Homo sapiens: one gene and its partner. The protein of the gene in region 2 purifies or fractionates together with the protein of the main gene of each other region. This does not show direct contact. Each region holds a gene or a part of one and is shown on either strand. Other genes may lie near its edges.

The links. The genes of interacting proteins can lie anywhere in the genome.
Region 1: the proteins of RAB27A (region 2) and ECD purify together in Homo sapiens (affinity purification with mass spectrometry; one large-scale study listed by BioGRID and IntAct). This does not show direct contact.

The regions. Positions count from the first base shown.
Region 1 is NC_000010.11:73,133,274-73,137,027, forward strand, and holds the end of ECD (protein ecdysoneless homolog), read right to left. Parts: intron 3,646-3,754; coding exon 3,431-3,645; intron 1,541-3,430; coding exon 1,310-1,540; 3' UTR 395-1,309; downstream 1-394. UniProt on the Homo sapiens protein: Regulator of p53/TP53 stability and function. Inhibits MDM2-mediated degradation of p53/TP53 possibly by cooperating in part with TXNIP. May be involved transcriptional regulation. In vitro has intrinsic transactivation activity enhanced by EP300.
Region 2 is NC_000015.10:55,230,791-55,234,444, forward strand, and holds part of RAB27A (ras-related protein Rab-27A), read right to left. Parts: intron 1-3,654. UniProt on the Homo sapiens protein: Small GTPase which cycles between active GTP-bound and inactive GDP-bound states. In its active state, binds to a variety of effector proteins to regulate homeostasis of late endocytic pathway, including endosomal positioning, maturation and secretion.

The sequences.
Region 1 (3,754 bases), on a different chromosome or scaffold from region 2:
TTTTTGAGACGGAGTTTCGCTCTTGTCGCTCAGGCTGGAGCGCAATGGCGCAATCTTGGCTCACTGCAACCTCCGGCTCCCGGGTTCAAGCTATTCTCCTGCCTCAGCCTCCCAAGTAGCTGGGATTATAGGCGCCCACCACCATGCCCGGCCATATTCAGTTTTTATTAGTTCGTGATAGTAAGTTCTCAGATGAGAACTCTACTACACCATTCTCCTAATTCCTCCCTTGGTCACTGGAGAGGGAACAGTATGAAACTATTTCCATTGTTTTTACTTGGATAGGGTAAGATATAGTAAAGGCATCTCTCTGCTGCATACAATAATAAAGAAGAATCCAGAGACCTAGATTATAAAAACATGGTCAGTATATGGAGCTGTCTGTAAAGAAGACTTTTTTTTTGCTTTTAATGGTGAATTTTATGATATATAGATAATACTTGATTTATTTTAGGAGGAATATGAGCATCATTTTAAGAAATAAACATTTCATCTTAGCAAAAGATATATCAGTTATATTAAATATCAAACCAATTAATTAATTAAAACAATTAAGTACAGTATCAGGTATGAAATATCCAAAATAGGCAAATCCATAGAGACAGAAAGTAGACTAGTGGTTTCTAGGGGCTGGGAGTAGAAGGGAATGAGAGACTATTAGTGAGTATGGGGTTTCTAATATTCTAGAATTAGATGGTAGGGATGGTTGCACAATTTTGTAAATATACTAAAAACCACTGAATTGTATAATTTAAAGGGTAAATTTTTTGGTATGTGACATATCAATATAGCTGTTATTTACAAGTAAATAAGTTCTATATCTTGCTTCAGGTACATACATACATGCAAAAATTCACTGACTGTACACTTAAGATTTGTGCACTTAACCATATGCATGTTATGCCTCATTAAAAAAATTGAAAAAGTGAATGAGTTTTCAAATCCAAATTTGTCAACTTGAAATTTTGATCTGAGGATGAATAGCAGTAAGGGAGAAATTTAAATATTTAGAATTACTCCAAGGGTATATTGTGGTAGGGTATGTCTTTAGCATGAAGTGTGTGAATTTCATCTCAAGGTTGTCTAGGGGCTAGATTCTACCCTGCCGAGTTCAAAACCTGTGTATAACCCACAGCTGAGATCACAAAGACTTGTGCCAAGAGGGCCACATTTGGGGCTCATGGAGAAGTCAATCTGTAAAACTTGTAATGAAGAAACATTTTTACTAAATGAGTAATCTAAACTAGAAATGAACAGAATCATATTCAATATTTATTTAAAAAGAAAAAAGAGAAGCTAAATGTGCTGGTTAATTTTTTGTTGGCTTACTTGTTGGTCTGTGATCGGTGTTGTCAGGCAGCTGCACTCCCATGCTTTGTAAAAGATTGGAAGCAGGTCCTGCCAGTCCAGCTTGGGAGCTATAGGATTCCAATATATTTGAAACCAGGTTCAGGTCTACATCTACTGGTGCCATAACAGATTCTCCCGTACCAGAATCTTCCTCATCTGAATTGTTATCGGTAGTCTGGGATACAGGTTCCTTATTCATAGAGGGAAAAGAAAATTATGGGCTAATGTATCATTAGGTTGCATGGTGGTTACAATAAAAAGATAACTAAGCCACAATGTAAATTTGCATTCCAAATTAAAAAGGAAACTTCTTATCCTTGGTGATATAAACTGAAAATGAAGTCTACAAGTTATATGGCCTAGCACACATAATAAAACTTGGTTCTAAAGGTTATAACACATTTCTCTCCAGGAAAGATTCCTGCAAATCGAATAAATTGCATGTCTATTTTGAAATAGCTCAAGGGCTAATAGAATTAAGAAGGTACATTTATAACTTGTCTAAGAGTCTTAAAAGAAACAAACATAAAAGTGAATATTAAATGAAATAATAATGTAAATTTTCTTCAAAATGAAAGAAGCGAGTGTTCCTTTCTTTCCCCCCAGTGAAAAAGCTTAAAAGTAAAAACACAAGGCTTTGTGGTTCCAACCACAAAGATTCTAAATTGTTAGTTGGGCCTCTGATTCCACAAGCTGGGGAAAGGATTTGAAAGATTACAGCTCGATAGACTTTTATGTCCTTGCTACCCAAAGCATTGTCCATGGAGCAGCAGAGTCTCCATCGCTTGGGGCTTATTAGAAATGGAAAAACTCAGCTGGGAGTGGTCGCTCATGCCTGTAATCCCAGCACTTTGGGAGGCTGAGGTGGGTGGATCACTTGAGGTCAGGAGCTCCAGAGACTAGCCTGGCCAACATGGTGAAACCCTGTCTCTACTAAATATACAAAAATTAGCCAGGCACGGTGGTGCGCACCTGTAGTCCCAGCTACTTGGGAGGCTGAGGCAGGAGAATTGCTTAAACCCAGGAGGCAGAGGGTGCAGTGAGCCAAGATCGTGCCACTGTACTCCAGCCTGGGTGACAGAGGGAGACTTCCATCTCAAATAAAATAATAATAATAATAATAAAATAAAACAAAATAATAATAAAAAAAAGGAAAATCTCAAGCTTCATCCCAGGCCTACTTAATCAGAATCTATGTTGTAACATGATCTTTTGGTTTATATTCGCATTAAAATTTAAGAAATACTGCTTTAGATAAATCTAATGTATGGTTTCTACTAGATTTTGACAATTCTGGAAGTGACTATAGTTTTAAAAGTGGTTTAGATGATCAAAGCAAGGAGAATTAACATTAATTAAAGGCCTATTGTAGGTTTTACTGCTGTCTAATTTGGTTCTCATGTTAATTTTATGATATGAGGATTACTGGTTTATAGATACATTCACAGTGGACAGCTGAGCTAGACTTCAAACCCTAACCCATAAGACTCCAGGGTTCTTGCTCTTTCCATAATACCTCTGTTTAGGATTAGACAGTGGTGGCATTAAAAACTAGGATGAAAACATAAACGGAAGGTGAATCCTAAATTTGGCTCTAAATTAGGGAAAAATACAAAATAAACTGTTAAAACTGGAAAGTTATTTGAATGTTTAAGATCCTGTTTATTTACTTATGTTATTTTGTTTTAATCCACTGTGGCCCAAGGCATAGTCTCAAAAGGTCTTGAGAACATGTGCCCTCTCTTTTTTAAAATCCATTTAAGCTGTAGTTTTTTTAAACTACTTTTGAAAAAAAATGTATTTAAGAAGTAGTAGTGTACAATCGCATTCTAATTTGAGCATATTATATGACTTTTTATTTTAAATCCTGATAGATAACGTAGAATAAGTAATATAATGAAGCTTATGTTTTGGAAAATTAAGTCTATGATCCTTTATCCTACCAGAGTTAGGAAAACAATTAACATTCTTATTTATTTCAAATCTCACACACCAAAAAAAGAAAAACTATGATAAAATATGGTTTTAGCTATCTGACATACTAGACTCAGAAAGAGAAAGAGGTTAAAAACACACATACCACTTGGTTCCTAGTGGTGAAACTTTTGCTGATGCAGGTGTGTGCTAGTTCCTGGTCCATCTGGGCCATGTATGACTTGAGATTATCAAGTGTTCCTTTCAGGGAAGCCTCTTCGCCAGGTTCGTGTGTTTCAAAGTCCAAGTCATCATCACTATCTAAACATTCAAAGTCTTCATCATCCAGATCATCAGAATCTGACTCATTAGGCCTTGGCCCTACACAGATCCCAAGAAAGAAAGAGCCACTTAGTAATTATTATTATTATTATTATTATTATTATTATTTAGTTACTACACATCTCAAAATAATTAGAATGTTACCCAC
Region 2 (3,654 bases):
TATTACTTTTCTATGGCTTTTCCCAATCTCATCTTTTTTGTTTGTTTAACCAGGGGGTACATGTGCAGGCTTGTTACGTAGATAGATTGCATAATGCTGGGGTTTGAGCATCTATTGAATTCATCACCCAAACAGTGAATGTAGTACCCAATAAGTAGTTTTTCAGCCCCTCTCCCACTCCCTTCCCCCTTTTGGAGTCCCTAGTGTCTACTGTTTCTGTCTTTATGTCCATGCGTACCCATTGTTTAGTTCCCACTTATAAGTGAGAATGCATGTGGCATTTGATTTTCTGTTTCTGCATTAATTCACTGAGGATAATGGTCCCCAGCTCTATCCATGTTGCTGCAAAAGACATAATTTCACTTTTTTATGGCTGCATAGTATTCTATGATGTATATGTACCACATTTTCTCTATCCAATCCACCACTGATAAGCACCTAGGGTTAGTTCCATGACTTTGCTATTGTGAATAGTGCTGCAATAAACATTTGAGTGCAGATGTATTTTTGGTAGAACAATTTTCCCTTGTCCCATCCCAAATTTTAAAAGTGCTCTTAAAAGAATTTTATAGACAACACTCCTAGAACAGCAGAGAACGGACCATCAAAAATTTCTTCCTCCACAATAGCAACAAAAACAGTGGTAAAAATTGTCCAAATCAACTTTTTCAGTACTCTAGGAATTAACAAAGACTTGCAACATTCCAAGGAGCATTTATTCAAGAAAAACAGCCGAATATCAGTAAAAACAGTAAGCTTTGAGGTGTTTTTTACCTTGCCCTATTCCCATCCCCCTCACTCAAGCTTTTAGAAGACTTAAAAACCATGTGCACAAATGTGGTTGTTGTGAAAACATCAGCCTAGCCACCACTGTGGACAGCAGAGGAACAACAGGTTTGGAGCTCCCTAAAAGTCCCATACTGAGAAAAATTGTCAGGAAGCCCCTTGGAAAGCTCCATGCCCCAGCTTTGTCTTTCTTTGACCTCACTCAAAGCTTGCTCTTTGAGAACAGCCCTATCCCAAGGGCATTTGTTGAAAACTATCAGCAGTAATTATTTAACATCACAGCTACCAGAGGTAGCAATACCAGTTAGGGCTAACAAAAGTCTAACAACAACAACAAAAAAAAAATTTAAAGAAAAAAATAGGAAATGAGATTTCTATAATGCTCCCAAATATTCCTTGGAACCTAAAAGGCCATGTTCATGGGCAGGGCTCTACAAATGCCCAGGAAAGATCTAAAAAGGTCCTAATCTCTCACTTCTGACTGACTTTGAGGTTCTTCTCAGGCAGAAAATAAAAGCTAAGGCAGAGTTGTAAACTGCCTGCAGTAGTATTAAACACATACCCCAACAAACACACAGAGACTCTCAGAAAAAGCTAAGAGACTTATTAGTTCAAGGAATTTAATAAACTCTCTCCACTCATTAGCTGTCCACTAAGTTGACTGAGCAGAGACTTCAGTAGCTGCATACAAAGAATACAGATTTTGCAGAATTATCCCAGAAACATAATTAAACAAACAGCAACGACAAAAATAAATAAATATGCAGTAAAAACAAGAAACCCAGGTAGGGGAAAGAATCTGAGTTTCTAGAATAGACACATTATTTTAAATGTCCAGTTTTCAGCAAAACGTATAAGACACACAAAGAAACAGGAAAGTATGGCTCATGCGCAGGAAAAAAACAACGAATAGAAATTATTCCTGAGGAGGCCCAGATGTTAAACTTATTAGACAAAGACTTTACATCAGGAATTATAAATATATTCAAAGAACTTAAAAATCAGTAACATAGCGGTCCTCTAAAATTAAAGGATAAATTAAGACAAAACTGAGAAAAGTCATCTCTAGCAGACCTATCCTACAAGAAATACTACAGACAACTCTCAAGACTAAGCTGAAAGGAAACTAGACAGTAACTTAAATCCACACAAAGAAATAATAAGCACCAGTAAAAATGTAACTGCATAGTAAATATAAAAAACAGTATAAACGTGGTTTTTCTTTGTAGCCCTTTTCCTCCACTAGATTAAAATTTAACTGCAGGCTGGGAGTGATAGCTCATGCCTGTAATCCCTCAGCACTTTGGGAGGCTAAGATGGGTGGATCACTTGAGGCCAGGAGTTCGAGACCAGCCTGGCCAACATGGCAAAACCCCATTACTACTAAAAATATAAACAATTAGCCGGGTGTGGTGGCGGGTGCCTGTAATCCTAGCTACTTGGGAGACTGAGGCAGGAGAATCACTTGAACCTGGGAGACAGAGGTTGCGGTGAGCTGAGATCTCACCACTGCACTCCAGTCTGAGCAACAGAGAGAGACCCTGTCTCAAAAAGAAAAAAGAAAAAAAAATTAACTGCATACAGCAATAATTGTAAAGCTGTATTGATGATGGCACACAATGTAGAAAGATGTCATTCGTATAGCAATAATGGCACAAAAATATGGGAGAAAACAGAGCCACATAAGAGCAAAGTTTTACACAGTATTAAAATTAAGTTGCTATTAATCAAAATTAGATTGTGAAAAATTAAGATAATTGTAATCCCCAAGGGAATTTTTAAAAAAGAACTCAAAAACATATAACAAAAAAGGGAATTAAAATGATGCACTAGAAAATAGAAAAAGAAACAACAGTATCTATCAACAGACAAATGGATAAACAAAATGGTGTATCAATACAATAGAATATTATGTAGCTATAATAAGTAATGAAGTCCTGATACATGCTACAACATGGAAGATCCTTGAAAACATCAGGCTGAATGTAAGAAGCCAGACACAAAAGGCCATATATTATTCCATTTATATGGTGTGTGCAGAAGCCATTGATAGAAAATTCATGGTGGCTAAGGGGAGGTAGAAAGAGGAATGCCTGCTAATAGGTATGAGGTTTCTTTTTAAAGTGATGAAACTATTCTAAAATTGAATGGCTGTGATGGCCACACAACTCCGAATATATTAAAAACCACCGAATTTTATACTTTAGATGGATGGATTTCCTTTTTTTGTGAATTATATCTCAACAAATCTATTTTTTAAGTTATACAATAAGTAACCAACAAAAATAATCACATACATATATGTAGATTCTATCAACTACACGTCAATACTAAAAATTTCATTAGGGCCCTACTGTTATTCAGTGGGTCTTAATCTCTATAAGCCTCTCTGGTAGTAGAATAAAATACTAGAATGGGCAAAAGGGAATGTTCTTCTGTCTTAAAAGCCAGGGACCTTTCCCCCTGACAGAATATGATCCATTAAAGGACCTTTGTCATTAATTTCCTGACAACTGGTTTACCTGCTTCAGGCCAACAATGGATTTTTCAACAAGAAATGTAGTCTAAGGAGAAAGCCATCTTTCCTCATCTGCAACTGTGACACCATGACCTTCTGCCTTCCCCTCCAACACTAGAATAACTTTCAGTCTCAAAGTCCTTAAAAAATAAATAAATAAAAGTTTCTCCCTTCAACATTCTGCAGAACATCACATTCACTACTGGCATTCCCCACTCCTACTCCAACCTCACCCTCCTGGCAGCAGTGATAAGTTCTGCCAGTTAGTGTTCCATGTGGAACTGCTGAGACTTTATTAGGAGAAATGCCATTAAAAATAATAAGATACCAAAGGTGGAAGACACAGCCCA